Linked DNA regions of Homo sapiens. The protein of the gene in region 1 interacts with the protein of each later gene in a biochemical or structural test. Each region holds a gene or a part of one and is shown in the gene's direction. Other genes may lie near its edges. The genes, in order: FKBP2, EPB41L2 and RAB3C.

Evidence for each region.
Region 2: the proteins of FKBP2 (region 1) and EPB41L2 form a complex in vitro, tested with the Homo sapiens proteins (one study listed by BioGRID).
Region 3: the proteins of FKBP2 (region 1) and RAB3C form a complex in vitro, tested with the Homo sapiens proteins (one study listed by BioGRID).

Annotation. Positions count from the first base shown.
Region 1 is NC_000011.10:64,239,642-64,243,906, forward strand, and holds the start of FKBP2 (peptidyl-prolyl cis-trans isomerase FKBP2 isoform 1 precursor), read left to right. Parts: upstream 1-1,453; 5' UTR 1,454-1,491; exon of another isoform or gene 1,492-1,638; coding exon of another isoform or gene 1,639-2,436; exon of another isoform or gene 2,437-2,572; intron 2,573-2,715; exon of another isoform or gene 2,716-2,742; coding exon of another isoform or gene 2,743-2,746; coding exon 2,747-2,917; intron 2,918-3,557; coding exon 3,558-3,670; intron 3,671-3,809; coding exon 3,810-3,856; intron 3,857-4,199; coding exon 4,200-4,235; intron 4,236-4,265. Other genes in the region: uncharacterized protein LOC114841035, read left to right, coding at 1,639-2,436. UniProt on the Homo sapiens protein: PPIases accelerate the folding of proteins. It catalyzes the cis-trans isomerization of proline imidic peptide bonds in oligopeptides.
Region 2 is NC_000006.12:131,056,654-131,060,301, reverse strand, and holds part of EPB41L2 (band 4.1-like protein 2), read left to right. Parts: intron 1-3,648. UniProt on the Homo sapiens protein: Required for dynein-dynactin complex and NUMA1 recruitment at the mitotic cell cortex during anaphase.
Region 3 is NC_000005.10:58,848,513-58,852,160, forward strand, and holds part of RAB3C (ras-related protein Rab-3C), read left to right. Parts: intron 1-2,651; coding exon 2,652-2,839; 3' UTR 2,840-3,648.

The DNA of each region.
Region 1 (4,265 bases):
AGGCTGGTCTCGAACTCCTGACCTTGGGTGAACCACCTGCCTCAGCCTCCCAAAGTGCTGAGATTAGAGGCGTGAGCCACCGCGCCCGCCCAACCCACACAGTTTTCTCCACCCTCGCCTCCCTTGCATCCTGCAGCTTCCTTCATCATCAGTTGCTGCCTGAGATTCTCCTGACTTGTCTATCCTAGCCCAAGCCCAGCCCCTACCCTTCTCCCTGCAGCCTCCAGTGCCCAGGGCTGAGTGGTTTGGGGTGGATGAAAGGCCAACCTTGGGCACCACTGCTTTGCCTGCTGAAGCAGGACATTCAGGGGCAGAGTTAACTCAATTGGGCAGCCACTGGGAGGGGCAGCCACCCTAATGGAGGCTTTCTCTGAGGTGTTGGGTCAGAGCATGTGGGTATGATCTTAGTGGGCCTAAGGCAGGAGTGGGTTGAACCAGGAGACAATTCCTGACAGCGATTACTACTTTCAAATCATTTTCTCAGTCATGATGTCACTGGACATGCCATAGGTCAATTAGCATGAGGCAGAAAGGGGTTAGGGCCCCAGAGCTACCGCCTCCAGAGCCCAGTTAGCCCCACCAGTCACGCACAATGCTTCACATGCACCTCCTCACTTTCTCCTCGCTCGATTCTGAGGTCAGCATCATGATTGTCTTCCTTTTACAATTGAGGAAATAGGCTCAGAAAGGCTAACTGGCCGGGGGGATTTGACCTCAACTCAGCTGTCTCCCTAACCTTCAACCTAGGTTTAGCTGCCTCTCAACTGCAGGTTCATTACTTCAGTTGACAGATGTTTGGTGGCTGCTGGGGCGCCTGAAAATAAGTCTGGTGGGGGAACAGGCCCAGCCAGATCATTCCAGTCATGAGTCACAGCCCAGGTGCACAGGTAGAGGTAAGCCTGGCTCCTGGGAGAGAGATGTGGGCAGGAGCATTGGCTGGAAGCCAGGGCTTGTCATTGGACATCATCTCGGTCCTGCAGGGGCCCTGTGGGGTGGGTGTCATCAAGCCCGTGTTACACGCCTGTATTGGATGACAAATTCTACCAAGCACACAGCCGACCGGGAGTTCAAACGTGAGTGTCACTGTGAAGCCCAGGCTCCACAGCGACTGAGGGCCGTGGGCCATGATGAGGCCCGGGAAAACAGGAGTGCTGTGGGAGAGGCTGGGGGCGACTTGAAATGGCGCCTCAAGACCCCCTCCGGGAACCCACGCCCGCCTGACCTTACTATCACCTCGGCCGGAAGTGTCTCCGGCCTTTTCGGAAGTCACTTTCACCTAACCTTACAGACTACCGCTCCGCCGGAAGTGACGCAGGGCAGCGGCGTCGCGGGGGCGGGGCTCGGGAAAGACCCGTGCCAGCGGGCGTGTGGCCGCGGGTTTCGCACGGTCCAATAAGGGAGGGCGGCGTGGCCCGGCCTGGTAGCGACGAGGACGCGCCTGCGCAGAGGCGGCAGCACCACCGGGGTTGACTCCGGGGGCGCGGCGAGGAGGTGAGCGGGGGCCACAGCCCGGGCTGGGGGGAGCCGGGGTGCAAGAGGGCAGGCTGGATCAGGCCGGGCAGAAGCGGACCGGGCTCCGAGTGTCAACGAGAGCTAGGTGACGAGGAAATTGGGGGTGGGGGCCGGAGCTGTCCGGAGATGCCGCAGGGGGAGGGTTCTCACGCCGCACGGGGCGGAGTCCTGGGACTCGGGGCGGGACGTGGAACCGGGACGGGTGGGACCTCCGAGCTGGTGCCAGTGGAAGGCGGAGCCCGGCGGCGGGGGGCGGAGCTAGGAGGGTCGGGGGACGGAGCCTGGCTCTTGAAGGAGGAGCTGGAGGAGGTGAAAGGCGGAGCCTCGGGGTCGGAAGCAGAGGGGGACGGAGCGGAGGCGCTGGGGGCGGGGCTTCAGCCGGTGAGTGGCGTGGCTACGGCTCCGGAAAAGGGGTCTAGTTCTGTCGAAGGCGGGGCTGCAGGCCCGGGGGCGGTACCGCGTCCTCCGAAGGGCGGTGCCAAGGAGCCAAGTGAGGAGCCTGGCCCGAGTAATGGCCCCGGGCGTCCTCGCGGGGGTGGTCTCCGTGGTGGCCGGGCTTGGGGACGCCGTAGGCCGAGAACTCCACCGGGAGAGGTGGTGTGGGTGGAGCGGGCTCGGCGGCCAGCAGACACAGGGCCAGTCTGGGTGCCCCGGAGACCCCCAAGGGCTCAGAGTTGGGGCGGCGCCCCGGGCGGAAGCACAGGGCCAGGCTGGGGGGTATCTCCCGAGGACCCGGGCTCCTCGGAGCCACCCAGTGGGGATGTGTGGGTGCCTCGGGGCCGGCCCCCTGCAGCGGCCGCAGAGGTGTTGGTGTGCTGGACCGGGGGCAGCTGGGTGTGGCGTGAGTGGGGCCGCCCAGTCGGGGCAACTGCAGTGCAGCCAGATAGGGTCTGGACTTTGCGTAAAGGGACAGGCGGGAACTGAAGAGCGGAGGTGGGGACTGGGAGGGAGGGAAGGTATGGGGGTGAGCAAAGGGGCGGGTCCCTGGCTGCTGTGGCCTCCCCTGACCCCCTCCCCCCGCTGCTGGGGTCCTCGGCCAAGCCCCCTTCTCACTGGACTGGTAAGTGTGGCCCCGGAGCCCGGGGGAGAGGGCGGTGACCCGGGACAAAGGGGATCCCCCGGGGCAAGGAAGATACAGTGGCGGTGGAACCCTCCTGTTACCTACCCGTGTTCCATACTCTCCCTGCCCTCCCCCACGTTCAGTCGGTCGGTCGGGGTCTGTGCCCACAGAGACATGAGGCTGAGCTGGTTCCGGGTCCTGACAGTACTGTCCATCTGCCTGAGCGCCGTGGCCACGGCCACGGGGGCCGAGGGCAAAAGGAAGCTGCAGATCGGGGTCAAGAAGCGGGTGGACCACTGTCCCATCAAATCGCGCAAAGGGGATGTCCTGCACATGCACTACACGGTGAGTGGGTTGGGCGGGCCTTTTGGGAGTGGGTGGGGCTTCCGAGGACCAGAGAGTGCTTGGGAGTCTGGTTCTCCATAAGCCAGGTAGGTGACCTTGGGCAAGTCCCCTCTCGCCTCTAAGCCAGTTTCCATGGTTCTGCCTTGCCCTTGCCTACTGCCCAGGTGGGCACCAGCAGGCAGTGACAGTGTACTGTGAGCTGCCCAAGGCTCTGTCCTCTTAAAGAACTATGACCAGCTGGGCGCAGTGGCTCACCCCTGTAATCCCAGCACTTTGGGAGGCCGAGGCGGGTGGATCACCTGAGGTCAGGAATTTGAGACCAGTTTGGCCTCATGATGAAACTTTCTCTGCTAAAAATACAAAATTAGCCAGGCGTGGTGGCGGGCGCCTATAATCCCAGCTACTTGGGAGGCTGAGGTGGAAGAATTGCTTGAACCCGGGAGGCAGAGGCTGCAGGGAGGCGAGATCACGCCGCTGCACTCCAGCCATGGCAACAGAGACTCCATCTCAAAAAACAAAAAGGACTGACCACCAGGGCTGTGGGTGGGCGTGGGGGGGCAGCTTGATGGGGAAAGCAGCTGAGGGAGGGGGTGTCAGGGGTGGTCCCCTCTTCCTCACTGGCCTTCTCATGGTTCCACAGGGGAAGCTGGAAGATGGGACAGAGTTTGACAGCAGCCTGCCCCAGAACCAGCCCTTTGTCTTCTCCCTTGGCACAGGCCAGGTCATCAAGGGCTGGGACCAGGGGCTGCTGGGGTGAGTCATGGGGGAATGGGCTTGGGAGTGGGGGCGTGCATGGCCACCGCCCAGGAGGTAAGCTGTGGGAGGCAAGCCCCAGGGATACAAGACAAGGGCCCTGGGTGCTGCCATGGGCTGAGCATGTGTCTTCCTGCAGGATGTGTGAGGGGGAAAAGCGCAAGCTGGTGATCCCATCCGAGCTAGGTAAGAGGCCCCTCCTGAGGGTGCAGAGCGAGTTTGGGGTGTGTGACTGGGAAGGGTGAAAGCTGCTTCAGCTTTTCATTGGTCTTCACCGTATCCATTCATTACAATACATGCCTCCTCCAAGTTTGGCTGTGTCTAGCAGTGAGTACAGGGCAAGATCATTGAAGCACTCAGCTGTAGTGGCCCCACTCTGCCCTTGCCAGGCCTTTGGCACCCCCTTCCCATCTCCATTACCCTTCTCCATTTCTGGCCTTCTTGCTGAGAGGGGCGGAACACTCTCCCTTTGCCCACACTGGAAGGGAGCTTGGCCATCACTGACTGTTTCTTTGTGCATCTTCAACAGGGTATGGAGAGCGGGGAGCTCCCCCAAAGATTCCAGGTAGTAAACCTTTTGATACCTCCCATCACC
Region 2 (3,648 bases), on another chromosome or scaffold:
CTGGTGAACTACAAAGGTTGTATCTTTGCCATTTCATTTAGGAATATAGGGTTTATATTTTATATAGCAGAATGCTAAATATTTTTGAAGGTTTTGTTTTGTTTCTGTTTCTACTCTGTCTCTACTAAAAATACAAAAATTAGCCGGGCATGGTGGCGCACGCCTGTAATCCCAGCTGAAGACATGGGCCTTTTTCTTTCTTTTTTGAACTGAAGTAGCCTGTTTAAAAGCTATGTGTGGGCTTTTTATTGAAAAGTGTGAATTGCTACTAGTTTTATAAGGCAAATAAACAGTTTATAGGGATCAATACCACTGAGTCACATTTTGCATTTCTAAAATCTGTGCTGTTTACTTGGAGAAAACAAAAGAAATGTGCCTACCTCCTCCATCCCACCTTTATTTAGAAACATTTCCAGTGGGCTTGTTTTTTTCAGATTCAGAATTACTGTACCTAACCACTGGGTACCCTTACAGATTTCAAAGCCTGAAGTAAATGTTTATGCTGGCTTTCGTAGTCAGCAAATAATAGCCAAACCCTAATTCACTGCTCTTTTATAGAATCTTGGAATCTCAGGGCTGAACCGTTAGGAGTCAGCAGATCCACTCTTAGCCCTAGTCTCTTCCTCTCAACATGCAAACAGTTCTAATGTCTTTGGAATGTCTGAGCAAATAGAAGATTTGTATGCGATTCTGTCACCAATTCTAGACAGAACATCCTTTGGGATGCCATGTTTTGGCATAAACCAGCAACTTGATATTATGAGATTTGTATCATTTCTCTGCGTGGGCAGTGCCCTAGACTAAAATCTAAAATGGAGTCAATGCCTGATGTCATTAACTATAGGGAAATGGCCTCCAAGTTAGCTATTAGAGTTGTTTAGGAATTATAGCTGGGCGCGATGGCTCACGCCTGTAATCCCACCTCTTTGGGAGGCTGAGGCGGGTGGATCATGAGGTCAGGAGATCGAGACCATCCTGGCTAACACGGTGAAACCCCGTCTCTACTAAAAATACAGAAAATTAGCCAGGCGTGGTGGCAGGCATCTGTAGTCCCAGCTACTCGGGAGGCTGAGGCAGGAGAATGGCGTGAACCCGGGAGGCAGAGCTTGCTGTGAGCGGAGATTGCGCCACTGCACGCCAGCCTGGGTGACAGAGCCAGACTCCATCTCAAAAAAAAAAAAAAAAAAGTTATAGGTAAGCCAAGAAGGAAAGAAATAAATAATCTCAGTTATCATCTAGAAATGATTTATAGTTTTTGTTGCTGTTGTTGTTTTTATTTTGTTTTTGAGACACAGTTTCACTCTGTCGTTCAGGCTGGAGTGCAGTGACGTGATCTTGGCTCACTGCAACCTCCGTCTTCCCAGTTCAAGTAATTCTCGTGCTTCAGCCTTCCAAGTAGCTGGAATTACAGGCGTGTGCCACCATGCCCGGCTAATTTTTGTATTTTTAGTAGAGACAGGGTTTCACCATGTTGACCAGGCTGTTCTTGAACTCCTGACCTCAAGTGATCCACCCGACTTGGCCTCCCAAAGTGTTGGGATTACAGGTGTGAGCCACCGCACCCAGCCGGTTTATAGTTATAGCTAATAGATTTTGGTAGCTTTTTCTATAAAGTATGTGTATGTGTGTGTATTTCATATGAGAGAGGGAATATTATAGGTATTTGTGATGTGAAGCACCTACTCATTGTATTTAATAAATATTTGATGAATTAATTCATTGAACCTTTAATATATTAGAGGTGAAGAATCTTTAGTGAAGATTCTTTGATAGAGTTGACATAGAAATGGGTAATGTTTCATGTAGAAATATCATGTCGGTAATGTTTATTTGCTTTTCTAACCACTGATATTGTTTCTCCTGGTTTTGTGGTTGGCTTGGGATCTGTGTTGTAAGTTTCTTAGAGGCATGTTTTTCATGTCTAGGAGAGTAGATAGGCTATATATTTCCATGGTGTTGGGATAGTATTAATTTTAATTAGAATTTCAGAGGCTTTCTGAATTTTCTTATTTTAAAGTGATGTCTCTTACTTCTTGGCATTGGAATAGATTTCATGTGATCTATGAGTGCATTCATACTGCTTCTGGATATTTTTTCTTCAAAGATTGCAATTGAGCTAATTTCATATTCTCAGTTATCTTTAAAATGGAAACATGTTTTCACTTCACAGATACCTCTCTGAATTTTGCATATTTTCACTCTACCTTATTAGAGCCATAAAGTCAAAAAGTACATAGATTGTCTCCCAAATAATCTGGAATAAATTGAAGGATAAGAACAATCTTTCCTGAGATCTGACCTGTATCTTAAATAAGGTTTTGCTTTAGATAGCCAAGTTGAAATTTTGCATAGATAACTAAGTTCGGCATCATGGGGATCATTTTAGTTCTTTCCAGGTTAGGAGGCATGGAAAGGCTCCCAAAGTGGTTTTGTCACTGTTCATCTATCGGACCTTATTGCCTAGGTCAGGTAGGGTAGTTCATGCATTTAAATCAAATCTTTCTGAAGAGACCAGTTTCCTCTTGCTTTGCTCTTAGGGCCTCACCATCAACCTTCATGAAAGAATTTTCAAATACTTAAAAACTTATGTTACCCTTCAGTTGCCTTTTTCCAGGATAATTGTGGTTTTAAAAAGCTTGTCATATAGTTCTGATTACCAACTCTGAAGTCACCTTTTCCAAGCCCTTGTATTTACGTTTCCAGACCTGCTGATGAGCTTCAGGGCTGGGCCATTATAACAACAGTGCTGAATTCACTCATATTTTTCAGAGTTTCCTACATTCTACTGATATATGTACATATCCCAGTAGCTTGAAGACATAAAATTAAAATGTGATTTACACTCTGCCATAATTCTTTGTTTCTTTCTCTTTTTGTCCAGAAGCTACTTGTTTTTCACCCTAGATTCATTTACCTTGAGGGAGATTATTTGGTTCAGACTCCTGACCTGGGGTGGAGAGTGGGGTTCTTGGGCCTCATGGGTGCATAAACTGCCTGAGACTGTAAGTGAGGTATTGTGTTCCCATGTGCATGCACTCCTGTGTGTGTGCAGCATCTCTGTGTGTGTGTGCACAAGTGGATGAGAGAGACAGGTTAAGGGAGAAAGAGAACTTTAGGAGTGGTTTTTGAAAGGGTTTTGGGAAACAGAAAAGATTGAGAACTGATGTTTCAGTTCTTATTTTCGAGATTAGAAGATGGAAGTTTTAAGAGTATTTTGTTTTTCTCTTTTTTTTTAATTTTTTCACCCTATTGCACTTTTCATCATTTATTCTCCCCTATCTCCCATTGTACTTCTTTCCATTCAATTGAATTCATTTAGTTGACCCCCATTTACCTAACTGTCAAGGTTAAACTGAATTCTGATATAATCCTGGCCACTCATATTCTTACCTGTGAACTTAATGAATGTGCATTTATTTCCTTACAAATTTCTTTGATGGAATATTGATTAGAAGGAATCAGTAACATGTCCACTCTATTTGATGCTGGTTAGACTGCCACATATGCCATTGTGACCTTGGGCAAATTATTTCTCAAAGCCTCGTTTGCTGTAGTAAGGGGTTAAAAATCATACCTACCTCAGAGTTACATGAGGATTAAATGAACTAATGCTTATAAAATGCTTCATAGAGTGCCTGGCATCTGTAA
Region 3 (3,648 bases), on another chromosome or scaffold:
AAATTACGGAGCCATTTTCTGCCTCTATTTCATCAGTAAATTGGAGAAAATAATGGTACCTACTAATGGATAAAATGAGTTAAAATGTATAAAATGCTCTGAATAGTACCTATTATATAGTAATCATTCAACAAATGTTAGTTTATTATTGCTATTGTTGTTATCATAGCATTTTCTAGTTTGCTTGGCACTTATGCCTATCTTTTCTCATTTTAGCCTCATGATAACCCTGTAAGTTAAGTAAGGCAAATGTCATAAATAAGGAAATTAAGGATTTTTTTTAAAGTGACTTGTTCATGGTCCCAAAGCTAGAAGTGTTGCTAAGTGGGGCTAGATCCCACATCTTTTGACTGATAATCTATCTCTCACCATATCATGATGTCTCCTTCTCAGCATGCTGAATAAATAGGTGCCATTATTTCTGGCACATTGTCTCTTTAATAGCCACATATTCTTAGGGTTCCAGTTAAGGTTGAGAAGCTGAGATCATGTTGGCTTCTGAGATCAAAGATAATTTTACTGACCTCAAATTGTATACCAATATGATGATAGGGTGTTGAGATGCCCAGGGTAAAGGAGTCACATTTGATAAAACCTTGTGTGGATTATCATCTTTTCATAATGGCTAAATCTTTTATGATACCGTTCAAGCTCAGTGACTTCCCAAATCATACTAATAAGTACAAGAAGTGTTAGCAAAAGAGATGAAAAAATTGAACTTGTAAATGAGACCTTTGTACCAAATTCTTGGATGTTTTTTCTTCAAAGGCTCATTCAGGGATCTTGAATTCTTCAGTGGGTTCTTGGTATCTTATGACATAAAGCATCCTCCCATTAGGTCTGGGAAAATCACCACAAGCATGCCAATAGTTCTGATATCTTAGCAACAAGGATCTTGCTTAGATCCATGCTTGCCTTTCCCCAAATCTGGATTGAATTACTGGAAGTTGAACGATCTAGCTCTAAAGACTGCACAAACATTATAAAAGAGAGCTCTGTTAACACCAGATGGCCTTATCTGCAGATTTTTAAAATGTAGACTATAAGAGAGCCATATAAGCATTGTCCAGAGAGACAAAAGGAAAGAAAAATACAAGCCACAATGGTTTGAAATATCCAGCTCTATTTTATAGAACCTTGACTCTACTGATGTTCTTCAACCCCAATCCTGCAGTTATTCATGTGGATTTTAACGAGAGTAGCTAGTGAAATTCAAGCTCAGATGTAGTCATTGAACCAAATAGTATAACGACTAAGTTGGAGATTTTAACTCACGACACTTGCCTTTTGTTGTCTAGCTTCAATACTATTTAAGAAAATAAGTATTTCTAGGTTATTTGAGGGATTTTGACATGGATGCAAAATATTAATCTGTTCTTTTTCCTTTGGCCCCAGGAGCTGGGATGAAATCACATGATTTCATCATTTTGAATCCATGCGGCTCCTCTGAGATAGGGCCAGATGTAACCAGAAGGATTTATAGGGTGTAAAATTCAGAATGGATTAGAAAAGCCTTTCTATGTTCAGCCCAACACATCCTAAATCAACGTCCCCTGAATGGACCAGAGCAATCTCTGGCTGGCCTAGTGGGGAGGTTGTCATGGCAACTGACTGGCAAGCTCAGCCAGTGGAATGTGAATGCAAACAATAGAGTGATAAGACTGTGTACAGAGCAGCATACTAAGGCTGCTTCTGCCCAGGTACAGTGGCACATAGGTGAAAGTGTGAAACTGTTGCTGCATTTTGTAACTTCTTAACAATCTCTGGCAGCTCATTTGAAATTTACCAAGTGCCCTTTCCCAGATGTTGGTAAAAACATTCCTGCTGATAGATAACAGAAGCTATGGAAAAATCAGCACCCAGCTGATAGGTGCAGAGGTATACAAAGCCCTGGAGGGCTGTTGGAATAACACTACTCAAAAATTTTCTGAAGGAGGTTGAAGCAGGTTTAAGGTAAATCTTATGACTCTTCAGTGCCATCTTGTGTCCTTTTAGATACTGACAATTTACTAGAAGCCCACTCTCAGACCGATCATTAGGCAGCAGCAGGGCAGACATGGAAAAGTTAGAGCTGGATTATATTGGAGCTTGGTATTCCCTTTTACAGCAGAATATGCACACCAAGCCTTCTGAGCTTTAAATTGATTTAAAAAATTGAAATTAAAAATTTTGGTAGAATCTGGAAATAAAAACAGAATAAGATGCCAAATAATGCCATGAAAAGATTGCAAGAGTCTACATGGTGCGCTAGGGGTTGAGGGAAGGGATGGAAAATCTAGATTTAGTGTTGAAGATTCTTACAGATAGATTTGGTATTGAGGATTCTTACTGTTGTCATTACTAACTCTTGCAATAGAATATTTTTAATCTATTCAGTCATGCTGATAATGCAAATGAATCAACAGAGAAAAATAAAATGTGAACATCACCAATTCCACTTTATAACTCTTTTGTTCATGGTTAATGGAGTAAGAGATGGTAGCATTTGCTTAAATGGTACCTCATGCCCACCTCTAATCTCTTACCTACCCCAAACCTACCACCCACTGATGTCTCACCATCACCTCATCACTATTGAAAGCCATAATCAAGTCCCATTTAATTTCAGAAATGCAAAATAACCAAGATGTGTTTCTGTGTGTTTCTTCCAGGGTTTGAGTTTTTTGAAACAAGTGCCAAGGACAACATTAATGTCAAGCAGACATTTGAGCGCCTTGTGGATATCATCTGCGACAAAATGTCAGAGAGTTTGGAGACTGATCCTGCCATCACTGCTGCAAAGCAGAACACGAGACTCAAGGAAACTCCTCCTCCACCGCAGCCCAACTGTGCCTGCTAGTGTCCCCGTGCACACAGGCAGCTCCAGGGGGCTCTGGTTGCCAACAAACAGCATTTGTAAATGGTCTATTAGCCTTCATTTATACTGCCTAACAATTATTTGAAGGAATAAATTGATGTCAATGGCTCGTACGCATTCAATTCTTGGGAGCTTTCCTGTTTAATATGTGGCAAATATGTGATCTTAAATTTATAAGGACTATCCATCTATAAACATCTGGTACCTGCATGTGACTTGTTATTTATTTGTCTGCTAGGCTCTTTTTGTTTCAAATTTGTTCTCAGACTACTTCTGGGACATCAGACTATAATCTCACTACAACTGGCTTTTGTCCCATTGATTCAAATTATGCTATTCACTTGTAGGAATGATGACCAAGGAATTGCTTGTGTGTGTGTGTGTGTGTGTGTGTGTGCACGCATGCCCGCATGCGTGCAGAGGAAGAAGTCACAAGACTTCATTTGCTTTACTCTTAGTTGAAAATCAAATGGAAGTTTTTCTCATGATTAGGGACGCTGTCACGAGTCTGGTCAGTTTACTGTTGGGAACTGTGTCTTTATTTCACTGTTATTAATAACTGAGATCATTGGCCTATAAAGAAATTGAAATGTTGTTTTTAAGGTCCTTGCAATTTTCCTAAGTCATTAATATTACCTGACTGGGGCTATTTAACAATAATCTTCGTTTACACATTTAAATAAGCAAGTATCTACCCAGGACTGCTTTTTCCACTGATCCTTCCCAATTCTGTGAATATTCAACATCATTGAACAGATTGAGACATATCTACTGAATGCCAGTTATGCAAC